2 separate regions of the Homo sapiens genome follow, and region 2 is linked to region 1. The links come from fine-mapping of genetic effects on gene expression. A gene starts in region 1. The other region holds a variant in brackets. All regions are shown on one strand. Distances are from middle to middle. Region 1 holds the start of ZSCAN9 (zinc finger and SCAN domain containing 9). Region 2 has its middle 13 kb from the start of OR2B6.

What was found. PIP is the estimated chance that this variant, and not a neighbour inherited with it, causes the effect.
Region 2: its variant is fine-mapped to the expression of ZSCAN9 in whole blood (INTERVAL, PIP above 0.99).

What each region holds. Positions count from the first base shown.
Region 1 is chr6:28,223,385-28,228,384 of GRCh38, forward strand. ZSCAN9 (zinc finger and SCAN domain containing 9) reads left to right here and starts at 1,891. Exons shown (of 4, transcript NM_006299.5): 1 at 1,891-1,982; 2 at 3,628-4,120; 3 at 4,306-4,453. The coding sequence starts at 3,701. RefSeq lists an enhancer at 1,696-1,795.
Region 2 is chr6:27,967,498-27,973,039 of GRCh38, forward strand. No RefSeq gene overlaps it. Among named protein-coding and RNA genes, the nearest start is that of OR2B6, 13 kb to the left of the region's middle. The variant A/C (reference allele first, on the strand shown) is at 2,960.

The DNA.
Region 1 (5,000 bases):
TGAGTTGGTGTGGCATTTTCAATATTCAGTACGGATTCCCAGTTATATGTTAAAAATAATCCCTTCTGTCCCAGGATACTCATCAAAGTACTGCTATAGTGGAATCTTCCCGGAAACAGACAAATGAAAGCCAGTCTCTCTCAGGGCTAACCATTGTGAAGTCCAACGTGCTGCCCACTTGACTCTGGGCTGGAGCCTGCCTGAGCCCTATAGTTGACCCACTTAGCAAGCACATATAAACCAGTGAGAGACCCTAACCAACTGCCAGTGAGACATTTAAGAAGTTTCATACAAATATTAAATTGCATTTACTTGTCACAGATGGTCATACAAAATGGAAAAGAATAACATATTTAAACAGTCTATTCAAGTCCAAGAGAAATTGAGCATTTACTCTCATTTCATAGTTTGTTAGGAAAGTTTGTAATGAGGGATTTGCAAGTGAACATGGTATGGTGGAAAAAGTGATGAGGATTTTTGAGCAAATTTTCTGCATGTTAGTGCTCTTATTGATTATATACTTATTGGATATTTGAAAGAAAAAGAAGTAAAGCATAAAGCTTGGGTTTATTTAATGCCCTCAGAAGGCTAGGTTGAGGAAAATAATAAAGAAATTTTCCGAGCTACTACCGTTTTGGAGTTAAAACAGATCATGGAGCCTCCATTAACACACAAGATACTTTCTTACTGCTTTAATAAAATAAATGATAAGATTCTGTTAAAACAAACAGAATATAGTTTAATCTACGTGACACCATCATTCTGGTTGGCATAGTAAAACTGATGAATGACTAACAGTACCTACAATTACGCTCTTTTGTACCAATAAAATTTATTTAAGGCTGGGCATGGTGGCTCATGCCTGTACCAGCACTTTGCCAGGCGGAGGTGGGAGGATCACTTGAGGTCAGGAGTTAGAGACCAGCCTGGCCAACAAAGCGAGACCCTGGTCTCTACCCCCCTCCCCCAAAAAAAATGCTGGGCATGGTGGTATGTGACTGTAGTCCCAGCTACTCAGGAGGCTGAGGCAGGATTGCTTGAGCCAGGAGTTGCAGTCTGCAGTGAGCTATGATGGTGCCACTGCACTCCAGCCTGGGTGACAAATTTATTTAATTGGTTTTGGTTTGATTTTGTATTATTATTACTAAAACTCCAGAAAACTTTTACAGCAAAAAAAAAAAACAACAAAAAACAAAAACAAGAAAGAAAGAAAAGGAAAGGAGGATGGGAGAAAGGCAGGAAGGGAGGGAGGAAGGTAGGAAAAGAGGAAGGGAGGGAGGAAAGAAGGCAAGCACGCAGGCAGATGCCTAAATAAAGAATACATAGGGGCCTGGACAAATAAATTGCTTTATGGACTGTTATGCACCCATACAATAAGTTAGACTTACATGATGAGTAAAGCTTTTTAGGATACATGAAGTGAAAACGTTAAAATAAGCGGGGGAGAAAAGGCTAAATATAAAATAATGCCATTGTGTGTGTGAGAGAGGATCACAATGATATACAAATTCCAGGCTAACGGTGACAGTGGCTGCCTCGGGGAGTGGGACTAAGGAGGGGTAGGTGGGGTTTGACATTTTACTTTATTAATTTTGGTATTGTCTGAGGGTTTTTAAACCATAAATAATGTATTAATTTTAAAAATGCTTTTAAAAATCATCATTTTCAATAGTTAACGGTCTATGCTTCATCAACGTTTTCCGTTTAAAACCTGTGTGCGGCCCACACACGTATGACATTCTGATTATGTGATTCACTGCTGAAAAAGAACTGGACGCCAGGAAATTGGGGGTTGAGTCCGAAGCAAGGTGAACGCCGGACATCGAGACATGGAATCCTAGACCGGCCCGGAAGTGCCTCTGCTCCGTCCGCCTTCGAGGAGAGGTCGGCATCTTTGTTCCCTGCCCGGCCATTGTTCGTGCCGCGCTTCTAGCAACGCCGGGCCGGTAACCCCCTCTCCCTCCTTGCGCGTTCCGGGTCTCGTGAGTTGGCTGTGGGGACCGGGAATGGAGGCGGGTCAGGGAGGGTGGGGCTGGAAAAGGGGTGTGGAAAGTGAACCTCAGCCGCTGGGAAGTGGGAGCCGGAGGAGGGGGCGGCGGTCAGTGCCGGGCGGCTTCGGGCGTCCCCTAGACCAGAGTGGTCATCCCCAGCTGTGGGGACATTGTACAAGAAAGGGTTGTAGGAGGACTGCGAGGCTGAAGGGTCACCTCGGTGAATAACGACAACAGGCTTAGGACTCAGGGAAAGAAACACCCGGGAGAGGAAGTTAAGGACAATTAAGACTTTGGCAGCCTTCACGATGGAGAACCTGTATACCCTCTTACCTCTAGATTCTGAAAGCAAATTAAGGGGCGTTGAATGGACTGGTTTTCAAGCGCAGAATGTAGCAGTTCCCGATTCCCTTTTCCTTAGTTCATTGATTCTCAAACCTTATAATACATACAAATCACTGAGGAGCCCGTTAAAGGGCATATTCTGGGTCTCCCTGTACTTCTCTCCACCTCCCAATTCAGATTCCCCAGATGTCTGCCATAGGGCCTTTCAAGCTGGAATTCAGCTGCTGCGCTGTGCTTCCTGGCATTTTGGAGACACACATTTTGGGAACACCCCCATGGGTTTCAGGTGCTTCCTGCGTCTGTGGAGAAAACTTTTCCCTTGGGCTTCTTTGGCTTCTTAGGATTGTCCTCAAAAAGAAGTTGACCTTGGGCAATCTACTTAACTTTCCCTGGCTTCCATTTCTTATCTAGTGAAATAATTATTATAATAAAACCTCAGTGGGTAATTGTGAGGATGAAATATAGTCTTGTATCTGAAAGCATATTGTAGACTTGTGCAGTGTTGACTGTTATTCTTCAGTAGCAGCAGGGCGGTGTGGAAAGCTCCAGGACTTGGAATCCACCTAAGCCTTTCTTTCTGTAAATTTAGTGAAAATAATACTAACCTTAAATGGTTGTTTTGAAGATTAAGAAAACTGAAGTAAATAGTAAAGTAAATGTTGGTTCGTTCATTTAGTCGACAGTAACAATATTTCCATTTATTCTTTCTCTAAGTTGATGTTTATACAGTGAGTTCAAACTTTTTATTCAGACTTTCTGAGTGATCGGTGCAGTCCCTAATTCATGGGCTGTTTTCCTCCATGAACTCTGTGAAGCATTATTGCTATTTCTTCTTCACATAAAGAAATCAAGATTGAAAGAAGATTTAAAAACTTGGCACAAGGTCACACAACTAGTAAATATTAGGATCAGAATAAAACCTAGGTCTGGGTCAGCTGTGGTGGCTGACGTAATCCCAGCACTTTGGGAAGCCAAGGTGGGAGGATCACTTAAACCCAGGAGTTTGAGGTTGCAGTGAGCTGTGATTATGCCACTGCACTCCAGCCTGGGAAACAGAGTGAAATTCCCCATTTAAAAAAAAAAGAAAGAAAGAAAACCCATATCTGGGTAACTTAAAAGCTTATGCTCTTAGCACATTATGAATATATATATTTCCATTATTTCCATCCTTTGGTCACCAAATCACTTTTCAGAGAAGAGCTTTAGGGCCTATGATAATTGCTTGTATTATCAGTTTCTGTCATCAGCTATTATCATTTTTCTATATAAATAATTTATTTTTACTGCTTAGGCAAGCGCCTCCAAGGTTTGTCTTGAAGCATAGCTCCAGCTGGAGGGTACCTTTTAAGCTGTTCAAGGTCAAGATGAATACAAACTCAAAGGAGGTTTTATCCCTGGGTGTTCAAGTTCCCGAGGCATGGGAAGAACTTCTGACAATGAAAGTGGAAGCAAAAAGTCACCTTCAATGGCAGGAATCCAGACTGAAACGCAGTAATCCACTGGCAAGGGAAATCTTCCGAAGGCACTTTCGACAGCTGTGCTACCAAGAGACCCCTGGACCAAGGGAGGCTCTTACTCGACTCCAGGAACTTTGCTACCAGTGGTTGAGGCCACATGTGAGCACAAAGGAGCAGATTTTGGATCTGCTGGTGCTGGAGCAGTTTCTATCCATTCTGCCCAAGGAGCTCCAGGGCTGGGTGAGGGAACACTGTCCAGAGAGTGGAGAAGAGGCTGTGATTTTGCTGGAGGATCTGGAGAGAGAGCTCGATGAACCACAACATGAGGTAGGAAGGGAGATTTGCTAGAGAAAAATGTGTATTTTGGCATGCCAAGAATCCTTGTCACTTCTGCTTTGTGTCTCCTTGACATTGGTGATAAAATACTCTCTTCCTGTTTCCTTCTTTCTTGGAAGTGTTTATTTCAGACAGTTAATTTCTTCAAAAGTCAAATCTTGTCTTTTTGTCCCCAGATGGTGGCCCACAGACACAGACAAGAAGTCCTCTGTAAAGAGATGGTGCCTCTAGCAGAGCAGACACCACTGACCCTTCAGTCCCAGCCTAAGGAGCCACAGCTCACATGTGACTCTGCTCAGAAGTGCCATTCTATTGGAGAGACAGGTGAGGGACAGCATTTATTTGATGTTGAACGAATCCCACCTGGTCAAGCAAAAACAAACAATAAACCCAGAGCTGGGAAAACAGGAGACCCAAAGACTCCTTACCAGATAGCAGTAATGGTCAGTTCTTCTGAGAGCCTAGTGTGCTCATCTTTGACCCTTCTCCCTGCGTGCAGACTTCTCCCTGAGTACCACCCTGGAAGCTTTCTGGACTTCTGATGCATGGTACATGAGGAAGGCTTTCAGGGATCGCTGTGGAGCACAGCTTCAGAGAATGGACTTCAAGGTTTGACAGACAGGTTCAGATCCTGGCATCGCCTCATGGAAGCTGCTTGTATTGGGCAGATTACTTAACCACTTGACCTCAGATCCCTCATCTACAAAATGGGGTTGATAATAGCTTTGGTTTAGTCTACTTGCGCTGCCTTAAGAGAATACCACAGACTGGTTGTCTTTAACAGAAATTTATTTTCTCACATTTTCAAAGGCTAGTAGTCCAAGATCAAGATACCATCAGGTTTGGTTTCTGGTGAGGCCTCTTCCTGGCT
Region 2 (5,542 bases), 260 kb before region 1:
CACATAGCTTAGCGAGCCAGCCAGGGAAGTGTTACAGCCCTTTTCACGCCTGCCATTCCATGGGTCTCGAGTTCTTGACCTGTGTCCAGGAAGAATGAGGTTATGTGGACAACTGGAGGGTGTGCAAGGTGAAGAAGAGCTTTATTAAGCAACAGAACAGTTCTCAGCAGAGACCTGAAGTGGGTAGCTCCTATTCACAGGCAGGGTTGGACTGAATCTGGGGTTTTTATGGGCTCAGAATAACCCCAGGAAGGTTATTATGAGCCCGTCCTCGAAAAGGAGGAAGTACATGCTGGGCAGGAGAATTGGTCCATGGAGAAAGTGCACGTTGATTGGTCAATGGGTGGGCCAGGAAAAAGCATCACCTGATTGTCCAAAAGGCATCAAGGAAGTTCTTACTCTATGTCTTGGACTCCATCTGGAACTGGCAACCCAACCCCCAGGCTTCAGGCCATCCTTGGCTTGAAGGTCGGGCCTCACTGCAGACCCGCCCCTTCCCACCTAGGAACCTATCTGCCTCCTGCCATCATCAATAAGACTAACTCATACTTAATAGAAGGGATTACACAGAGGGGAATATAGCAGTAAACACAATACTTAATGGAAATGAAAATATCAAAGAATGGAAAAATAATAAGCAGTTAACAAACATAATAGAATAAATAATCCAATGTTCATCTTTTTCACTGTCTTGGATAAGATAGTAATTGTGACACAATATTGTAATTTCCTCATTCTTACCTTTCTCTGGATTGTGAGATCCTTGAGGGAACATATGTAACGTTTATTTACATCCCAAGTGTCTTTCACAGTGCCTGAAAATGTTTAATGAATAGAAATATATTGCATATCCCAGAGTCATTCTGCATTATAAGATTTTATGGGAATTATTCCTGAAGGATAAGCATAGAACAAAAAAGTCAGTGATAGAGAATAGCTCTCCTAGATACTCTCACTAAATCTCTACTCATCAAAATGCCATCCAGAAGTGAGGGGATGATTATTTGAGTTATAATGGGAAAGTTTCAGATTTGATGGGGTGAATAATAATATTGGGTAAATCCCCAGGGCTGCTGAATAGCTCTAAGATGCAACTGTAAAGCAAAGGGAAGACAACAGTGACAGGAGCTGACTCACTTTAGCTCTCCACTGTAATCAGTCATTAATTGACTGTTTCTCTTCTAAGGCAGATAACCCCAGAGAGTGTTCTATTTTATGAATTATAACAAAAGTCATTTGAAACTTTTTAATAGTTGCATGCAGCATAGGAAGAACATGTTAATCAGTTCTACTCTCCCAAGAGCTGGATCCCTGTGGACATGGAGAAAACAAGATCATTGCTGTTGGTAGCTTAATTCTAATAGTTATTACAATGAGATATCTAGGGTCTTGTTCTTCCTTCCAACTTTTATAAAGAACTGCAGAAGGTGAAAATCAATTTCCCACTTGCTCTAGTTTTAAATATTACCCATTGATGTCATCACTCAGAATCCCTTAAGATTTTTCAGTTATGCAGAGAGAATCACATGAGTAAATGTAGCCATCTTTCAATTTTACCAGAAAAAAAATGGCCTAAGAAAAACTTATTTTATCAATAAATCCAAATATTTCTCATTCTTTAGTCTCTCCAATCTATAATTCCATCTTTCTTTTCTCAACTCCTTAACTATCAGGGACAATAAGTCAATTGTTAAATGAGTTAGTGGGTTGAGTATCTTTTCTTTTTACTTAGAAGACAGAGAAAACATGAAAAAACAAATGACATTAAACTGAAGCTTAATTTTAAAAATTTACTTCCAAAATTTATTTAACCCTTTTAAATGTTAAAGTAACATATAGTCATAATTATATATTACATTTTCACATGGTTATATGTTAACTTTTTTATTTTTACAAGACTAAACAGGGAAAATTAAAAATTCACTTCTTTGAAACTCCCGTTATCTTTGCATATTTATGTAAATCATAGTATTTTAGAAATTGAAGAGGAAGAAATTCTTCCAAACTCATTCTACAAGGCCATTGTTACTCTTATACCAAAAACCAGACAAAATGCAACAAAACCAGAAAACTCCAGGCCAATATCCCTAATGAACATAGATACAAAAACTCTTAAAAATATAGCAAACCAAATTCAATAGCACATTAAAAAGATCATTCACTATGATCAAGTGAAATTTGTCCTAGGGTTGCAAGGATGGTTCAACATACACAAATCAATAAACATGATATATCATGTTAGCAGAATCAAGGACAAAAACTACATGACAAATAAAAGGCATTTGATAAAATTCAACAGGCTTTATGATAAAAACTCTTGAACCAGGTGTACAAGGAACATACCTCAAAACAATAAAGTCCATATATGACAAGCTGACAGCTAACATCATACTGAATAGGGAAAAGTTGAAAGCTTCATCTCTAAGATTTGGAAAAATATAAGAATGCCCATTTTTAACACATTTATTCAACATAGTACTGAAGTGCTAATCAGAGCAAGTAGGCAAGACAAAGAAATAGAAGACATACAAATTGGAAAGGAGAAAGCCAAATTGTCCCTGTTCACAGATGACATGACCTTTTATATAGAAACCCTAAAGACACCACCAAAAAAACTGTCAGAACCAATAAACTAATTCAGTAAAGTTGCAATATACAAAATCAGCATCCAAAAATCAGTAGTGTATCTATATGCCAATAGCAAACTATCTGAAAAAAATCAAGAAAGCAATCTCATTTATAATCACTACAAAAAAAAGATACCTAGGAATAAATTTAACCAAGGAGGTGAAAGATCACTACAATAAAAACTATAAAACATTGTTGAAATATATTAAAAAGTACACAAATAAATGGGAAGATATCCATGTTTGTGGATTGAAAGAATTAACATTGTTTAAAAGTCTATGATACCCAAAGCAATCTATAGATTCAATGCAATCAAAATACTAATGATATG[A/C]TTCACATAGAAAAAATAATTCCTAAATGCATGTGAAACCACACACACACACACAAAAACCCCAAATAGCTAAAGCCACTTTGAACTGTGCTTTTGCGGTCTTTGAACAAGAAGAATAAAAGAAAAAAGAATAAACCTGGTGGCACCATACCACTTGACTTCAAAATATACTACAAAGCTATAGTAACCAAAACAGCATGGTACTGGCTTAAAAATTAATATAGACCAATGGAACAAAATAGAGAACCCAGAAATAAATCTACACAATTACAGCTAATTGGTTTTCTACAAATGTGCCAAAAACACACACTGGGGAAAGGCCAGTCTCTTTAATAAATGGTGCTGGAAAAACCGGATATCCACATGCAGAAAAATGAAGCTAGATAGACCCTATCTTTTCATCATATAACAAAAATCAACTCAGAATGGACTCAAGATTTAAATGTAAGACCCAAGATGACAAAACTACTAGAAGAAAGCATAGAGGAAATGCTTTATAACATTGGTGTAGGCAAGGATCTTTGGATAAGACCTCAAAAGCCCAGAATACCAAAACAAACAAATGAGATTACATCAAGCGAAAGAGTCTCTGCACAGCAAAGGAAACAATCCAAAGAGTAAAGAGACAATCTATAGAATGGGAGAAAATATTTGCAAACTATTCATCTGATAAGGGGTTAATATCCAGAATGTATAAGGAACTCAAACCACTCCTTAGTAATAATAATAATTAATTATTATTATCTGATTTAATGAAAAAATGCTCAACATCACTAATCATCGTGGAAATGCAAATCGAAGCCACAATGAGATATCCCCCCACCCCAATTAGAATGGCTACTATGTAAAAAATAACAAATAACAAATGCTAGCATGGATGTGGAGAAAGGGGAACTCTTATACACTGTTGGTGAGAATATAATTAGTACAGCAATTACTGAAAACAGTATGAAGCTTCCTCAAAAAATGAAAATAGATTAAAATTAAATTAAATCAAATTAAATTAGATTAAATTAAAATATGATCCAGCAATCCCACTATTGCCTATGTATCCAAAGAAATTAAAATCAGTATGTCTAAGAGATATCTTCACTCCCATGTTTATTGCAGCACTGTTCACAATAGCCAAGATATCTCATCAACCTAAGTATTCATCAATGGATGAATGGATAAAGGACTGTGCATATATACACAATGGAATACTATTCAGTCATAAAAAATGAAATCCTGTCATTTGTGGCAACAAATAACATGCATTTGTTGGACTTCGAGGACATGCATTAAGTGAAATAAACAGGCACAGATAGACAAACACCACGTTTCACTCATATGTGGAATCTAAAGAAGTCTATCTCATAGGAATAAAGAGTAGAATATTAGTTACCAGAAACTCCTGGAAACCAGTAGTTAACCAGGAGAGGGGAGTATGAGGAGAATTCAGTCAATTGATACAAAGTTGCAATAAGATAGAGTAGTAAATTCTAATGTTCTTTTGCACAGTAGGGTGACTTACGGTTAATAAGATCGTATTGTAGATTTCAAAATATTCTATATTAAATATTACTCTATATTATATGCTAAAACATTATATTATGTATTAAAATATGTATATTTTTCTACAGCTAGAAGAGAGAATTTTGAATGTTCTCACCACAAAGAAATGATAAATATATGAGGTGATGGCATGCTAAATACCCTGATTTTTTTTTTTTTTTCCTGAGACGAGTCTCACTCTGTCGCCCAGGCTAGAGTGCATTGGTGCGATCTCAGCTCACTGCAACCTCCACCTCCTGGGTTCAAGCGATTCTCCTGCCTCAGCCTCCTGAGTAGCTGGTACTACAGGCACGTGCCACCATGCCTGGCTAATTTTTGTATTTTTTTAGTAGAGATGGGGTTTCACCATATTGGACAGGCTGGTCTTGAACTTCTGACTTCGTGATCTGCACCTCAGCCTCCCAAAGTGCTGGGATTACAGGCGCGAGCCACTGCTCCCGGCCTAAATGCCCTGATTTGATCATTATATAATGCATACATTGCAAAATATGACACTATACACCATAAATATGTACAATTATTATGCATCAATTTAAAAATATTTTTTAATACAAAAAATTTTTGAAAGAATAAAAAGCATAAATTGAAAATCCACTTCCTTCAAAATCCAGTTATCTTGGCATATTCATGTAAATTATAATATTTTAGAAATGGGGATGCATTATAGCTGAAATTTTGAAACACAATTTTTCAAAAGTTAATGTATTTTATTTAATATATAACTATATTTTAATAATTTCAATTTTAATATAGTATTCTTTAACAATTTATATTTACTCTCTAATACGTTTTAATATGTTTAAAAATATATTTGAAATATTTACTATGTAATACACTCAAAATATGTTTAAAATATTTTTGTTTAGCTTCCGTATCAACACACACACACACACACATACACACACATGCGCACACACACATACACACACATGCACACACACACACGCACACACCACATTTTTCTGTGACTTTATACTTTTTATTTATGAATGTACATATACTTAACCATTATTCAGTCAATGAACATTT